4 linked regions of the Homo sapiens genome follow. The protein of the gene in region 2 interacts with the protein of the main gene of each other region in a pairwise test. Each region holds a gene or a part of one and is shown on either strand. Other genes may lie near its edges. The genes, in order: ZSCAN1, NPAS2, CRY2 and RORC.

Region 1 (3,918 bases), on a different chromosome or scaffold from region 2:
ATCGGGGCAGCAGGACTTTCTCAACACACGCAGCATCTGGTGCGGGTGACACAGGAGGATGGGTCTTAACTGCGAGGCTGGGAAAGGACAGGAGGGGCTGGGGTGAGGCCCAGAGGCACACAGCAAACACACAGCTGCACTGACTGCCCTCGCCCAGCACTGAGCCCCAGGAAGCTTGGGGAATCTGTGGGGCAGGCGGGGAGTTTGGAGGCCGGGCTTCCTGGGAGCGCTGGGGACAACCTCACACAGTCCTTGGATGGGGCATCCTTGAGGCCGTCCCAGAAGCGGCACGCATGCCCTGGGGTGCAGGAGCACGGAGCTGGGGGCCCCGGGCTCACCTGCGATGGTTCTTTCTGGGACCTTGGACTCTTCCCATCTTCCTCCTCACCGAAACTCCAGTCCTGGGGTTCGACCGAGTCCAGAGATACCAGAACTGTGCGGGAGAAAGGGATCGTGAGAGGGGCCTGTTCTTCCCAGAGCCCCCAATTCTCCAGGCCTTCTGGGGAGGGCAGACTTTCCCCGAACATCCCTGCAGCACCCCTGAGGCGCAGGCAAGAGTGGCTGCAGGGCTGTCATTCTGTCCCTCCATGTGGCTGCTGGGCAGGAACCTGTGGTGACACCGAGGGCCGCTGAAGACAAGTACCCTCTTCACTCATACTCCACACCCCTGTGCGCCTCCAGAAGCCCACGAGGACACACACTGCAGCACTGACTAACTAGGGAGGCCCGAGCACTGTGAGCCCTCTGCTCCCCAAGCCCCCCGGGGCTGTGTGCACAGAGTGCACAGAGGACGACTGCTGAAGCAGGGTTCAGGACACCATTGACAGAAGGGTCAAGACGTGGGAACCAGGCCAGGCGTGGTGGCTCACACCAGTAATCCCAGCACTTTGGGAGGCTGAGGCAGGAGGACTGCTTGAGCCCAAGAGTTTGAGAGCAGCCTGGGCAACACAGCAAGACCCCCCCCTATTTATTTTTTAATTAAAAAAAGAAAAATTCAAGATCACGGCCACCTCTGGGGTGTCAGGCAGAGCGGGGGACAACAGGACTAGGAGACGTGCATGGGGGTTCAGCTGATTCCACTGGTTGTTCCTTTTTTTTTTTTTTTTTTTTTTGAGACGGAGTCTCGCTCTGTCGCCCAGGCTGCAGTGCAGTGGCGTGATCTTGGCTCACTGCAAGCTCCGCCTCCTGGGTTCAAGCGATTCTCCTGCCTCAGCTTCCTGAGTAGCTGGGATATAATATAGGCACGCGCCACCACGCCCGGCTAATTTTTGTATTTTTAGTAGAGACGGAGTTTCACCATGTTGGCCAGGCTAGTCTCGAACTCCTGCCTTGTGATCCGCCTGCCTTGGCCTCCCAAAGTGCTGAGATTACAAAGCATTTCCTAGGTTGGGCTTTGATAAGGGTGGGTGGCCGGTGCAGGGCTGTTCATTATACTTGCTCTACTGTTTCATAGGCTCAAAATATGGAATGTAGAAAGCAGACCACCGCTATGGAAGACAGATAGAGAGCCCTTTGCTCAAAAACGTTGAATTTTGAGAGTGACCATGGAACATTAAAACTAGCAAGGGTGGCTCTGGGCTGGGATGGCTGTGAGGTCCACAGAGCGCCAGAAGCCAGTGCTCTTGGGCCCTCTACCCCAGGATCAGAGAGTTCAAAGGGCCAATTCATCTGGCTTCTGCCTTGCAGCTTACAGGGCTACCCTTGAGCCTCTGGAAAGCTCAGCTGTCACAGCTTTCCTAAGTGTGGCACCGGCTGCCCTGGGGCAGTAAGGGGACCCTGGACCCTGTGTTCTGCAAACTGCTTATCACTGTTGGTCTACGGAAATGCTGTAGTGGGAGGGTGCAAAGGGAGGGCCTGTTCCTCTCCCTTGCTCCACCCCTCTTTTCTGTGAGCTCTGATGCAACCCTTCTCACTCCCAGCCTTTGCTCCTGCAGCGTGGCTGCCTGGCACCCTCCTTGCTGGGGCCCTGCTGGGGAAGCCCTCCCGAGGCCACAGTGCCACGACTGCTCTCACCATCCGTGGCTGCCTCTTTTGGCCTCCCAGTGTCCAATCCCTGCACTTTTGTCACTAGGAAAGAAAGAGCCCCACTCATGGGACTGGGCCCTGGGTGGATGGAATCTCGACGTGGGGTCACAGGGGCAAAGATGCAGAAGGACAAAGCCCTGTCAGGGGAGAGGGGAGCTGAGAGAGGAGACAGGGAGGGAGCCCAGTTTCAACCCCAAATTTCCCAGCTCCCAGAGTCGGGATGCAGACCTAAGCGTCTCTCCCCACCATCAGCCAGCGATGGGGCCTGCGCCCTGTGAAGGCTTAAGGATCTCTAGGATTCCTGAGTGTTGCAGGAGGCGCTGCAGGTGGCTGGGAGGAAGTGGCGAGGCAGCGTCCTTCCCAGAGAGCAGCCGTGAGGAGCAGCAGACACAAAGCCACAGGACAGATGGACGCATGGGAAATGGAGGGATCTTTAATCACCGACTGAGTGAGAAATTCGAGGCAGATGAGGCGTGCAGCACATTTATATGTAAAAATAATTAAAAACACAGCCGCGGGGCAGGAGAGGTTTGCTGGTCGGGAGGGGCCGGGCAGGGGTGGGAGCGATGTGGGCGGGAAGGAGGGCAGTTCGGTCCTCGGAGACGTCAGGCCCCCTGGCCCGGCCCGGGGCAGGAAGCCTGCGCCTCTCACCTTCCTGCTGGCACATCTGTGTGAGGTCCTCCACCAGGCTGGCGGCCTCCCTGCAGCTTCGGGGGCCCTGTGACTGCACCCAGGTCCGCATCTTGCTGGGCAGCGCGCCCAGGAACTGCTCCAGCACCAGCAGCTCCAGCATCTGCTCCTTGGAGCGCGCCTCGGGCCTCAGCCACTGGCGGCACAGCGTCCAGAGCTGGCCCAGCGCGAGGTGCGGCCCGCTCGCCACGTGGTACTGGAACTGCCGGAAGCGCAGACGCTGGGCTTCGGTGTCCCTGGGGCTTGCTGGCCCAGGGTCTGCGTCCTGCTCACTCGGGGTTGGGGTCTGGGGGCGTCTGGGGGAGGCAGGGGCTTTGGGCCGTGGAAGCATTTCTCTGGCCACAGTGCCCCTCTGAGGGGTGTGTGTGGACTGGATCCCGAGTCCCAGTGGCTCCGGACAGAGCCGGTGTGGCAGGCGGACAGAATCAGCAATCAGGGGCCTGCAGAGAGGGGCAGGGACAGAGGGGTCACATCAGATGGTGGCCCTCTGTACTCAGGATGCCCCTCGGCTCCTTACTTCCTTGTTCTGACCTCCAGCACCCCAAGGAACCAACCTGACCTCTTCCCACCTTCTGACCTAATCTTCCACATGCCTCTCACAGGCTACTTTGCACTGAGTTCAAGCCACTGGCTGCCCCAGGACCTTTGCACCTGCCATCCCACCCCAGCCCCTCCCCTTCCCACCCCAGCTCCTCCCCTCGCAGATGTCCTGGCCATCATCCTTATGGCACTGTCTTCATAACCTCCATGACTTTCTGAACACAACTTTTCCCCTTACTTAGTGTCTATCTCCCTCTCATTTAGTCATTCAACACACATTGACTGACGAGCTGCGGGAACAAGAATGCCTGCCCCGTGGTGTGGCCAGCACTGCCCAGTGAAGTTCCTACAGGGATGTAAAGATTCTCTACCCATGCAACCACCTACGTGTGGCTAGGAGCACCTGAAATAGGAACTGAATTTTAAATTTAAATTCCATTTAAATGGAAGCAGCCAGGTGGGCTACATAATAATGGATGACACCACCACCAGCAGCAGGTCTACCCATGGTGTTATCTTTGCTGTCTTCCTGACTTTCCTACCAGGTCCAAGCTGGGGGTGGAGACCAGGAAGAGGGCAAGGGAGACTGGAGACTCTGAAAAGAGAGGGAAAGTGGGAAGAGTAATTTTAAAATAACCTTTTGTGGCCGGGTGCCGTGGCTCA
Region 2 (3,918 bases):
CTGGGTGACAGAGCGAGAATCTGTCTGTCTCAAAAAAAAAAAAAAAAAAAAAAGTTCTAATGGGTACTACAGGTGAGGCATCTTTTAAAGCACAATGTTAGTGGTCGATTCATGCATTAGGATCAATAGGTCAGTGTTCCTATTTCAAGTTAAGAGTTGGCACTGAAAATACAGCTGTAAGTGGTTAATTCTTGAAACCACTTGCTAAGTGAGAACTCGGACAAGCTTGTAATTCTCACTCCCCCACATCGTAAGTCCCATCCCCCATACATTTGCTAATGTGTTCGCCTCGTATGTGGCAAAGAGCCTTCCCTGAACCCCAGCTGTGAGGGTCCTCTTGAGTCCCCCAGTATGCTGTGTACATCCCCTTCAATGCACCGACCACATCCCACAAAGTCACCCATTTCTGGCTTTCCCAGAAGACCTGCCCTGCGGGACAGCAAGTAGGTACTGATCATCCCCATATGCCAGCCTACTCAGTATCTGGCCTATGGTTAGTGACCAATACTTATCTGCTGATGAAAGAACAGTTATGAGAATTCGGTATTTTATCTCTGAAATGTATTGCATAACTTAAAAAAAAAAATCCCTGCATCACCTTAATTTCTTAATTAGGTTTAAACAGGGCGCCTATCTGGATGACAGTGGGAAGGTGCTAGGGTTTGGGGCCAAGTGAATTCCAGTGACATGGGGGTAGACGCGGATAAGGGGCCTCCACCATGCCCCCAGATCATCTCAGAGAAAACCAAGTTCCTCACCTTAAAAAGAAACCAGGTAACGAGCAGAGGCTTCTGGAGTCCCAGAGCCCTGCTGCTGGGCCCCAGTGGAGTGAACGCAAGGCCCCCATGCCTGGGCTGGGCAGTGGTACTCACGGTGCTGGTGACACCTGGCCAGGAGCTCCAGGTCATCAATGTGGTAGTAGTCATAGCCTGAGGTTCCCAGCACTTCAAAAGGCAGGTATCCTATGATTGGAGGTGCTCTGCACAAGGACAAGGAGGACTTGTCATCAGGGAGGAGACACCCTGCAGGGCTCACCCTGGTGGCCATGCCTTTCCATAATGATCAACATGGAGGCCTCATTTCTCAAGAACAAGGGGAGAAAAATAACTTTGTAATGGTCAAAATCAGAGAGGCTGTGTTTTCCAAAGGGCTCAGCTTTTTTTTTTGGCATATAGATACTCCTTTCCCTTGGCATAACTTGGCCCAAATAACAATAAGCTTTATCACTACTGGGTAATTAAAAACAGCTACAAATTGGATCAGCCCAACACCAAAGTGTAATATAAATTAAAGGGTGGGGAGGGGAGATTTGGAGTTCTTCAACTGCAAATAATGTTACAAAAGAAACAGTAAAGATTGGGCTAAAAGATCAAAGGATGTTGAAAAAAATGAGATGAGAGATTTCTCTCACACTTGCTGCTGCCTTACTGGGAGCCGGGAAGGGCCTCAAGTGAGGATCATCCCAAAGATGGCCCGGGGCTGAGCCATCAGACCCAAACACAGAACATATTCACGATGGGGCAGATGAAGTTGGAGGGAAACCACCCACCCTTGGCAGGGACGACTTTTCCTAGTGCCAGAGAGTCCTCCTCTTTCAATGGACCAGGGCCGACTCTTCTCTCCCAAGGAGAGCCTGGCTCACGCAAACAAGACTTGAGAAGGGCCCAACCCAAATATGTTTTTCTTTTCTCAAACCTGTGATCCAGAAATAAAAATTTCCATTCCAAGCTATGCCTTGAAGTGAATTCCTCTAAAGGTTCGTCAACTATGCACATTTCCTGTATTGGAAGCAGAAAAAAAAAAAAAGTTGCTTGGGTGCCAGATGCTCACCCTAGGTTTGTTCAAGAGGAACGCGTGGTGGGTAACAGAAGTTAAAATCATTTCGAGCAAGTCTCCAAGTCGTGTTGGACTGAAACTCATCATCTGTAGCTAATTTCGGTATTAGCTGATACTAAATTTATTTCACAAGCTAGGGAAAAATACCTAGGAGCCAGAATGTCACACCATCCCTTCCCATTATCGAGAAGTGGCAAACATGTGGAAAATGGCTTTTCATCGGAATCTGAATTACTCATTTAACTCAACATTCATGCCATCGATGTTGAAGCAATCACAGATGAGAGAAGGCAGACAAACCCCCAGCGCTCCAACACTCGGTTCTCACCCAGGCCTGGCCTGCATGGTATTAACGCCGGTGTGAAAGGTGGGAAGATTTACAGTTATCAGACAGCACTTCTGCGGGCTGAACAGCAAGCGATGCTGCCTTCAAAGAGAACCACTTGCAGGAAACGGGGCAGGGGAAAGGGCGTGTGTGCAGGCACAGAAGCCAGACACTTCGATTTTCAAAGCCAGTGACAACTTCACTGCAATTTATTCCCTCCCAAAAGACCATTAATTACATATAACAAAATGTGAGTCAATCATAACAGCTCCGCACAATGAACTGCCTCTCAGGTACTTGCCTTTAAGAATTGTGGTGTTGCCAGACGAACGGTGGCAATGAAGCAAACCTCCTTTCCTAGTGGCACCCGGCAAGGTCTTGAAAGGGTGTTGTCAAAACCATTACAGGAGGGGCTAGGCACTGGGGGGTTGGGAAGAAGAGGACACATAGGTTAGCCCTGTCTGGTGACAGCAGCCAATCCCTAGTTGGCACTTAACTGTAAGCCAAGCGCTGCCCCCAGGGTTTATGTAGAGTATATTAACTCATTTCATTTTCACAACTGGATGAGGTAGGTCAACTATTATTCCCATTGCAAAAAGAGGAAACCGAGGAACAGAGGGAAGTAACTTGTGCAAGACCAAAAAGCTTGCTAGAGCTGGGATTTGAGCCCATGCTGGTCACCAGCATTCAGCACTGCCTCTCACTTCCACTAGCCCTATGGCTTATAATGCTGGGAAAAATAGTCTACAAAATGAGAACACAGGCCAGGCACAGTGGCTCACGCCTGTAATCCCAGCACTTTGGGAGGCTGAGGCGGGAAGATCACTTGAGGCCAGAAGTTCGAGACCACCATGGCCAACACTGTGAAACCCCATCTCTACTAAAAAACAAACAAACAAACAAAAACAAAAATTAGCTGGGCATGGTGGTGTGTGCCTGTAATCCCAACTGCTTGGGAGGCTGAGAATCACTTGAACCTGGGAGGCGGAGGTTGCAATGAGCCAAGTTAGCACCACTGCACTCCAGCCTGGGTGACACAGTAAGACTCTGTCTCCAAACAAAACAAAACAAAACAAAACAAAACAAACAAAAAAAAGAGAAGACAGCCTCATTCTGCAGTAACGGTTTGAATACTCCAGCCAGTGTTTTAAGGTGAATTCTATAATCAGTGTTCCTGATACTGATGGTCCCAGGGAAAGTAGGGGTGTCTCGGCATCATTGACACCCCCTTCCCTGCCCCTGTCTTGGCTGGCATACCTGGGGTTCAAGGGCCTCTGTCCTGAAACTCCCCCTTGGGAGCCCAGGCTGATACAGGGGTTGGGTCTGGGCCACTGAGGAGACAGGGCTCAGGATTTAGGGGTCACCCCCAGAGGAACACAACGCCTACAACAAAACTTGCTAGTTCCCTAGTGTGGCCCAGGTGACAAAATCTGCTCTCACGCATCTTCTTACATCTTCTCAAACATCTAGGAGGGCATTACTGTCCTAGGCCCGGAATGGTTCTATAATTAACCACGGTCACTCAGAAATAACAGCAGGGATGCCATCAAGTTTTTGGGCTCTAGGCCCAGGGTTCTAACAGGGCAGAGGGGGGACTGTCCTAGGCCCACAGCCATGGGCCCACATCATGATGCCGTCTCACACCTGCAGTAGCCTCGGCAGAGTCTTCTCTGTGGGACTTGGTCCCTGCCTCCAGGGCAACTGTGGAGAACGGACTGACCTTCTGGGCCAGAGAAAAAGTTAGTTACTTTTAGATG
Region 3 (3,053 bases), on a different chromosome or scaffold from region 2:
CCCAAAGCCATTATTAGAGAGAAGCCAGAAGGGCAAGAAGGAAAGGCAGGCCCAGGTCTTGGTATGAGGGAGGCCAGCAGGAGCTTCAGAGCAGAGCCAAGAATGAGACAAGTTCCCAAGGCAGGTTCCTCCCCTTTTCTCCTTCTTCACTCTGTGCAGGCCAGACTGTGATATTCTTGGGCCTTGCCTGGGCCCCTTCCCAGAAAGTTGGGGTGTGAGCTAATAAAGCTTTCAGTCCAAGGCTAGCATCCCCTAGCATGGAAGCAGGGCACACTGCACAGAGAGGGGCCATTCTCTGGCCAGGAGACAAAGCCAGCATCCAGGCGCCCTAGGCTTGGCTGTGGGCAGATCTCAACCACCTAGTCACAGCCAGAGAGCCTGCATCCCCTCCTCACCACAGGCTGCAGCTTAAGTGGCTGCATTGAATTAAAGGATGGATTGAGGGCGTGGAGCAGGCCCTGCACTGACTGACCCCCAGCCTGGGAGGGGGTTTAAGTGGGCTGCAAGGCTGGGTGGCACTGCAGGATGGCACTTAGGACCCTCACTCTGGGCCAGAGTGCTCTGTACTATTTTGGCCAATTGACCCCCAACTCTTGACCAAGCTCTGGACCAACTCTTGACCAAGCTGCTCCAGTCTGCTCTGGCTGCTCCCCCTTCCTAAGGAGGAATAGGAGGCTCCTGACTCCCACAGAACCAAGATGGGGTGGCCGACAGCTTCATTCAGGCTCAGGCTTACCAAAACCCTGGTTCCCAGGCCTCCCACAAGATTGACGACAGCACAAACTTACTCAAGACAGGTCAGACATTTATAAAACAAGTGAATATTCACAAACAAATTGTGGGAGAAACACACCTTCCCAGCAATAGAAAATCTCTATAAAGTGCATTTTGCCTGCAACCATCTCTTCCCCATGCTGGCCCTTGGGTCAGGATTTGAGGCACTGTTCCGAGGGAGCCCTCAGGGCCACCTGAGCTGGGAGAAGGGAGGCATGAAGCCACCATGGAGCTCCAGGCTACTGGACATACCCTCTCTACCCTGCCCTTCCCTCTTGGCTCCAGGAGTGCACTGCCTGACTCCACTGGCAGGTTGATCTGGGAACGGGCTGACATGCTAGGGATGGTGGAGAAGTAGGCGGAGGTGGTCCTGCCAACCTGTACCTTAGGGAAGAGAGCCAGCAGCAGACAGGCAGGAAAAGGAATCATCCTGCTACCCGAAGGCGCTGCTAGTGAATACTAAATCTGGGCCTCGGCCTTTGGCCTTCCCACTCTCAGATTTGCCCTTCCAGGTTTGCTTGACTCTCTTTCTGGCAGTGGCCCGATTCTCTTTCCTCTCGACTGGGGCTGAGGGAACAGGGAAGCCCCCAACCCAATGCTCTGAATGCACACCATCCCCTGTGCCCTGCTCCCCTCCCACGATGATGGGACATTTCTAGTGAAGGTGACATACGTACAACAGTTGGACTCTAAAGGCAGCTCTCTGGCTGAGAAAACCTGAGGATATCTCAGGAAGAAGCCTGTCAGTGTGATGGACAGCTACAGGAGATGGGTCTGACCCCAGGGTTCTGGTCCAAGGACAGAGGACAGTGAGGGACAGGGCTGGGGCCAAAAGAATTAACAGATCTGAGGCTAGGAAAGGTCACAGGGGAGGTAGAAAGGAAAAGGCCCAAAGGCCAGCTTAATGATACACGTGAGGACAAAAATCCAAACAGGAATCAGCCTCATAGCCACACACACACACACGTACCACACACGCACACACACACACACACTTTGTGGCTCAAGTGCAGGCCACAGGGTGGAAGGAAGACTTGCTTTAGTTGGCCACCGTCGTCCTTTTGCATGACATCTTTCTCAACACAGGCCTTTGGCAGTGGGAAGGAAGAGGTGGGAGGCACAGGCCACTCCTGGAATGCAAGGATTGGCTTCTCTGGGTCAAACCTCCCACCTACTGCTCCTGGAAGGAATGGTGTTCTGGGTGTAATCTCTACTTGGACTTTTGCCAACTGCCCCTGGCAGTCCCCATCCCTGAGTCCCTCTGCCTGAGTCCTTGGAGCTCAGCTACTGGGATAGCTGACATGGCAGTCTGGATGCTGACAAGTCCAGGACAGGCCCTGGAAGCCAACAGAATAAAGACTAGAATGGTTTCCCTGGCTGGGTGTCAGCTGTCCTCACTGGCAGCACTGTGGTGCCTTGGAGTGTGGCCAGAGAAACCAGGGGGCCTTACGCCACTGCAACCTGGTCTCCTCCTGGTAGAGTGAGTCAGTTTGACCCTTGCCCCTTCACAGCTCCTGGGTAGGCTCTGAGGCTGGCTCTTAGCTTCTGGGGAAGGAACAATGACAGCTGGGATTCTCTTTCTAATTTTAGGTTCTAAATCCTGAAAAGGTAGGTGTGCTGTCTTAGGCTCCTATTACAGTACCAGGCATACCCCACACCAGTCAGGTATCTGTGTGTACTTCTGTAGGGTGGTGGAAACTTTTTAGATCTGTCTATGGCCTCATGCTCAGTCCCAGAAGCCCAAGGAAGGGCCTGGGACTGAGCCCAGTAGCAGAGAATTTTAAAATAAGAAACAGAGGCCAGGTGGCTACGTCTGGACAGCATCCATCCACTCCGGCCTGCTCAGCCTCCAGGTCAGAAAGCAGGAACTCAGCAGGGCTCTGGCTGCCTCCAGAATCCCATGCTTTGGACAACAGCCAGAACTGCTGTGCTCCTGCTCCACAGCCTGACGTGAGGAGGGAGGGAAGGAGGTCTAGGGAGGCAGATGCCAGAATCCCAGCTAGGGTCCTACCACTACGTTCTGTTCAGACAAGGCAGCTGGCTTGCAGGAACAGGTCTCAGCTGAAAGTCACTGCCATAACCTCGAGCCTTGTGTCTGGAGGCCGGGAAACAGCACTGGCGTGCTACAGGTACTCCCCCAGCCCAGGCAACATTCAGAATCATGAGTGTCAACAGATGCATGCACACACAAACAGGCACACCACTCCCTCCTCTGCACACGCGCACACACACACACATGCTCGCTCTATCTCTGCCCGGTGATCAGCTTCTCTGCAGGT
Region 4 (3,918 bases), on a different chromosome or scaffold from region 2:
CCTTCTGTGGCTTGTGGGAAGACCCCAGGTTGAAGCTGGGGCTGCTTCAGGCCTCAGCCACAGGGGCATGGGGCTTCCCTTTTCCTCCTTCACCTTGTGCTCTGAGAGCTTCTCTGGCTTCCCTGGCTTCCCTTCACAACAAATACAGGGGACTTCCTGAGGTTGCCCACCCTTGCTCTGCTGGAAGGCACAGGAACCCCAGACATCTGCCCACCAACTGTTGGCCCAGGGCTCCAAGCCAGGAAAAGGGTGAGGCCGAGGTCTTTCCAATCCCATCTCCATTGCCTTGCTTCCCCGGTCAAATGGGTGACTGACCCTGGAGAACCACACACACACATACACACACACCCCACACACACACGCACACACACACATGCACACACACGCAGGCATGTGCCCGGGTGCACCCTGACTGGATTCCACATAGTCCTCATGTCCCTGGATTGGGCAGAAAGCCTGGTGGCTTTGAGGCCTGGACGCGGGGATTCTGTGCCCTGCTGCCTGCCAACCTCAGTTGACTCTCGCTGTCCTGTTGCTTCAGAGCACAGCAACTGCTCTGGCCTCCTTTTACTCACAAGCAGGCTGGAGGCACAGAGGGAAACACCGTAACAAGGGAAACACTGTAACAGGAGAGTGCGTTCAGGGCCCCTAGTAATTACCAGCCCCCATCAGATACCAGCTGTGTAACATTGGGCCAAGTACGCGGCCTCCTTGGCTCTCAGTCTTTTTGTAAAATTAAGGGCCTGGATACCTCAGATACTTTTGGAGGTTCTTTTTGGAACTCAGGAATTCCTCAACAGTCCTCTTACCATTGCTGCTGTCAGGGAGCCGCCTGGCCAGCAGGACTCCCCAGCTGCTCCACCCATCTCCCAACAGATCTTGACCTTGACCAGGACGCACCCTGCTTTGCTCAGATTTGCTCACACTGTTCCCAAGACATCCTCCTTTCCAGAGGGGTGACGACAGGGTCCAGGCTCCCCCGCCCCCAGGTGGCCCCATTCACTTACTTCTCATGACTGAGCCTTGGCTCTGCCGGCCTTGGCTCCCTGTCCTTCTCAGCAGGGGGTGGTCCAGGAGTGGGGTGCAGCTGGCGGCAGAGGCGGGGCGAGGCCCTCTCAGCAGCGCCTCAGCCTGAAGCTCTGCACCTAGCTCTCTCCCCCAGTGCTTCTGGACTGGGGGGTTTAAGCTCTGCACCACACAGGTGGCCAAGTGACAACCCCCCACCCCACCCCCAAGGGGTGCAGTGAGTAGGATGACAGGCGCCCCACGTGGCCAATCTGGGCCTGGGGCAGGGTGTGAGGGGAGGGGCAGCCAATCGTAGGGGGCGTTGGAAAATTCCAAAACCACATGCGACAGCCACACGCGGTAAAAGCTGTTTCCACCCGCCAGGGTAGTTCTGGCTGGGGAGCCAGAATGGAGCTCACACGAGCCTGAAGCCAAATTTCTACTCCTCCTACCCCCGAGGACCTTCCAAGCCTGACCCTCTTTGCCAGGTGACTTCAGGGACAGGGATGTTTTCAGAGGTAAGTCACAGGATGTCTGCCTGGGGTGGTGGCATGTGCCACCTGACACCCTGTGGACTGCCAACAGCCATACCCAGTGTGGTGCAGCCTGGGGGGCTGTCCCACCACTCCCATGCCCACGCTCCTCCCTGCAGACACCACATATATCTTGCGCTAGGGAATACATGGAAATGATAGAAGCAGTAATAATCACCAGGCAAATACCCACAATCCACAGAAGGAAACCAGAAATTTCCTTAGGAGCCAAACTGCTGAAATTGGAGTGTAGATAATGATCATCATCACCATCATCATACTCATAATCATAATAATAGTGCTTACTATTATGTGTCAGAAATGGTTCTCGATGTTTTATGTGGATAATCTAATCCTCACAAAATACTTTATGTGGGCCGGGGGCAGTGGCTCACGCCTGTAATCCCAGCACTTTGGGAGCCCAAGGTGGGTGGATCACCTGAGGTTAGGAGTTCGAGACCGGCCTGGCCAACATGGTGAAACCCCATCTCTACTAAAAATACAAAAATTAGCCAGGCATGGTGGCGAGCACCTGTAGTCCCAGCTACTCAGGGGGCTGAGGCAGGAGAATCGCTTGAACCCGGGAGGCGGAGTTTGCAGTGAGCTGAGATAATGCCACTGCACTACAGCCTGAGCAACTGAGTAAGACTCTGTCTCAAAAAGAAAAAATAAAAAAACTTTATGAAGTAGCTACCATTATCCTCATTTCGAGGAGGAAAGTGAGACACAGAGAGGTTAAGTAACTTGCCCAAGGTTACACAGCTAGTAAGTGGCAGAGTCAGGATTCAAGCCCAGGCAGACTGGCTTCGGATCCCACTTGAAGGATGGGAGGGTTTCTCTGGTTCAAGTCTGCTTTTGAGGGTGTCTCAGCCTGGGAGGTCCCTCGGTATGTGAGTCTCTCTGGAGTGTTTTTTGGCCTGGGGGAGGGGGGTCCTTCTCAGGGGCCAAACAATTCCAGAGACCTTCTCAGCCTCTTAGGTGCTTTGTGGGGTACATTGGCTTTGAGAGTCCCTCTTCAGGGCCCCTCAGTATTCAGGCTCCCTCTTGGTCTGGGGAGTTCCCCCGGGTTCCCCATCTTGGACCCCCATCTTGGGGTTGTCTCAATTCAGGAGCCAATTTTCAGAGTCTCTCGGCCTGGGGGAGGCCTTAATGTCTCCTGGATTCTGTGGGGCAAACTCCTGAGAGGTGTCTGATCTTGCTGGGACTCCAGACCCTCTCATCCAGGCACAGGCCTTTCCTTGCCTTCCTGGGCCTTCCTGGGGCTTCAGGAGCTGGGCCGTGGAGTGGGGGAGAGGCTGTCAGCCTGGATCCTCAGGACAACACTCTTGGGGTGGGGACACGAGGACTGGTGGGATGGGAAAGGGATAAGGAGGTATAGTCCTGGCTGAGGTTTCTGAGGTCAGGGGTTAAGGGTAGGAATAGGGTTTGACCTCTCCCAGTTCCTGCTGCTCCGAAAGTCCCCCTACTCCCCCCACCCACATAAGGTCCGTGACCCCCCTCCCCCAGCTCACCCGCGTCACTCCCTGACCCGCTTTCCTCCCGGGGCCCTGCTCAGCATTTCCGTGGGGCCCTGTGGCTAGGGGCAGGCGAGACACTGATCAGGATTATGCTGAGCAAAGCAACCCCCACCCAGGAGGAGGTAGCATCCTGGATGGCCCTCAGCCCTGGGCTGCCCAGCTCATGGAGAAGGGCAATGCTTTGCTCTCTGAGATGTCTCTACTTGGAACAGGGAGGCTCTAGACAATTTTGGCATTGGGCGAGATGGCAGTGAGCTCTCAGGAGGAACTGGCAAGGCAGTCAAGGGACGGCTATGGAGAAATGGTGTGGCCACTCCTACCCTGGAGGGATCCTCTCGATTCAGGGACCCATGCTCACAGAAGGGCACGCATGGCCCTGATGGGCATAGCTTTGGGACTGTGTGCATTCTCTGGGGGACTAGCCTTTGCCACAAACTAGGAGAGGAGAGCTGATGTGCTGAGTGGTCCCTAGAGAGGATTCTTATTCACTAGCGTCCACTGGGAAGTCCTCTCTGAGCTCTAGTGCCCTTCTTACCTGCTGTAGTCTGGCTTTCAGGGCCCCAGGACACAGAGTGCCCCTGTCCATTCTGTTTCCTACAGAGATAAAGCTCTCCTGCTCTCTAGTCCTGCACAGGCTGGCTCCAGGCTTGTTCACACCTCAGGATGTGTTAACCACAGAGATGAACACCAAACCTGGCTCAGGACCACAGAGCTTGGTGCAGGCTGGGCACAGTGGCCCATGCCTGTAATCTCAGCACTTTGGGAGGCCGAGAGGGGTGGATCACAAGGTCAAGAGTCTGAGACCAGCCTGACCAACATGGTGAAACCCCGTCTCTACTAAAAATACAAAAATTAGCCAGGCG

Evidence for each region.
Region 1: the proteins of NPAS2 (region 2) and ZSCAN1 interact in a two-hybrid assay, tested with the Homo sapiens proteins (one large-scale study listed by BioGRID and IntAct).
Region 3: the proteins of NPAS2 (region 2) and CRY2 interact in a two-hybrid assay, tested with the Homo sapiens proteins (one study listed by BioGRID).
Region 4: the proteins of NPAS2 (region 2) and RORC interact in a two-hybrid assay, tested with the Homo sapiens proteins (one study listed by BioGRID and IntAct).

The regions. Positions count from the first base shown.
Region 1 is NC_000019.10:58,036,965-58,040,882, reverse strand, and holds part of ZSCAN1 (zinc finger and SCAN domain-containing protein 1), read right to left. Parts: intron 3,156-3,918; coding exon of another isoform or gene 3,047-3,155; coding exon 2,677-3,046; intron 434-2,676; coding exon 339-433; intron 1-338. UniProt on the Homo sapiens protein: May be involved in transcriptional regulation.
Region 2 is NC_000002.12:100,962,721-100,966,638, reverse strand, and holds part of NPAS2 (neuronal PAS domain-containing protein 2), read right to left. Parts: intron 2,582-3,918; coding exon 2,463-2,581; intron 1,779-2,462; coding exon 1,696-1,778; intron 980-1,695; coding exon 873-979; intron 1-872. UniProt on the Homo sapiens protein: Transcriptional activator which forms a core component of the circadian clock.
Region 3 is NC_000011.10:45,880,980-45,884,032, reverse strand, and holds the end of CRY2 (cryptochrome-2), read right to left. Parts: 3' UTR 789-3,053; downstream 1-788. UniProt on the Homo sapiens protein: Transcriptional repressor which forms a core component of the circadian clock.
Region 4 is NC_000001.11:151,824,923-151,828,840, forward strand, and holds part of RORC (nuclear receptor ROR-gamma), read right to left. Parts: intron 1,175-3,918; exon of another isoform or gene 1,015-1,174; coding exon of another isoform or gene 1,008-1,014; intron 1-1,007. UniProt on the Homo sapiens protein: Nuclear receptor that binds DNA as a monomer to ROR response elements (RORE) containing a single core motif half-site 5'-AGGTCA-3' preceded by a short A-T-rich sequence.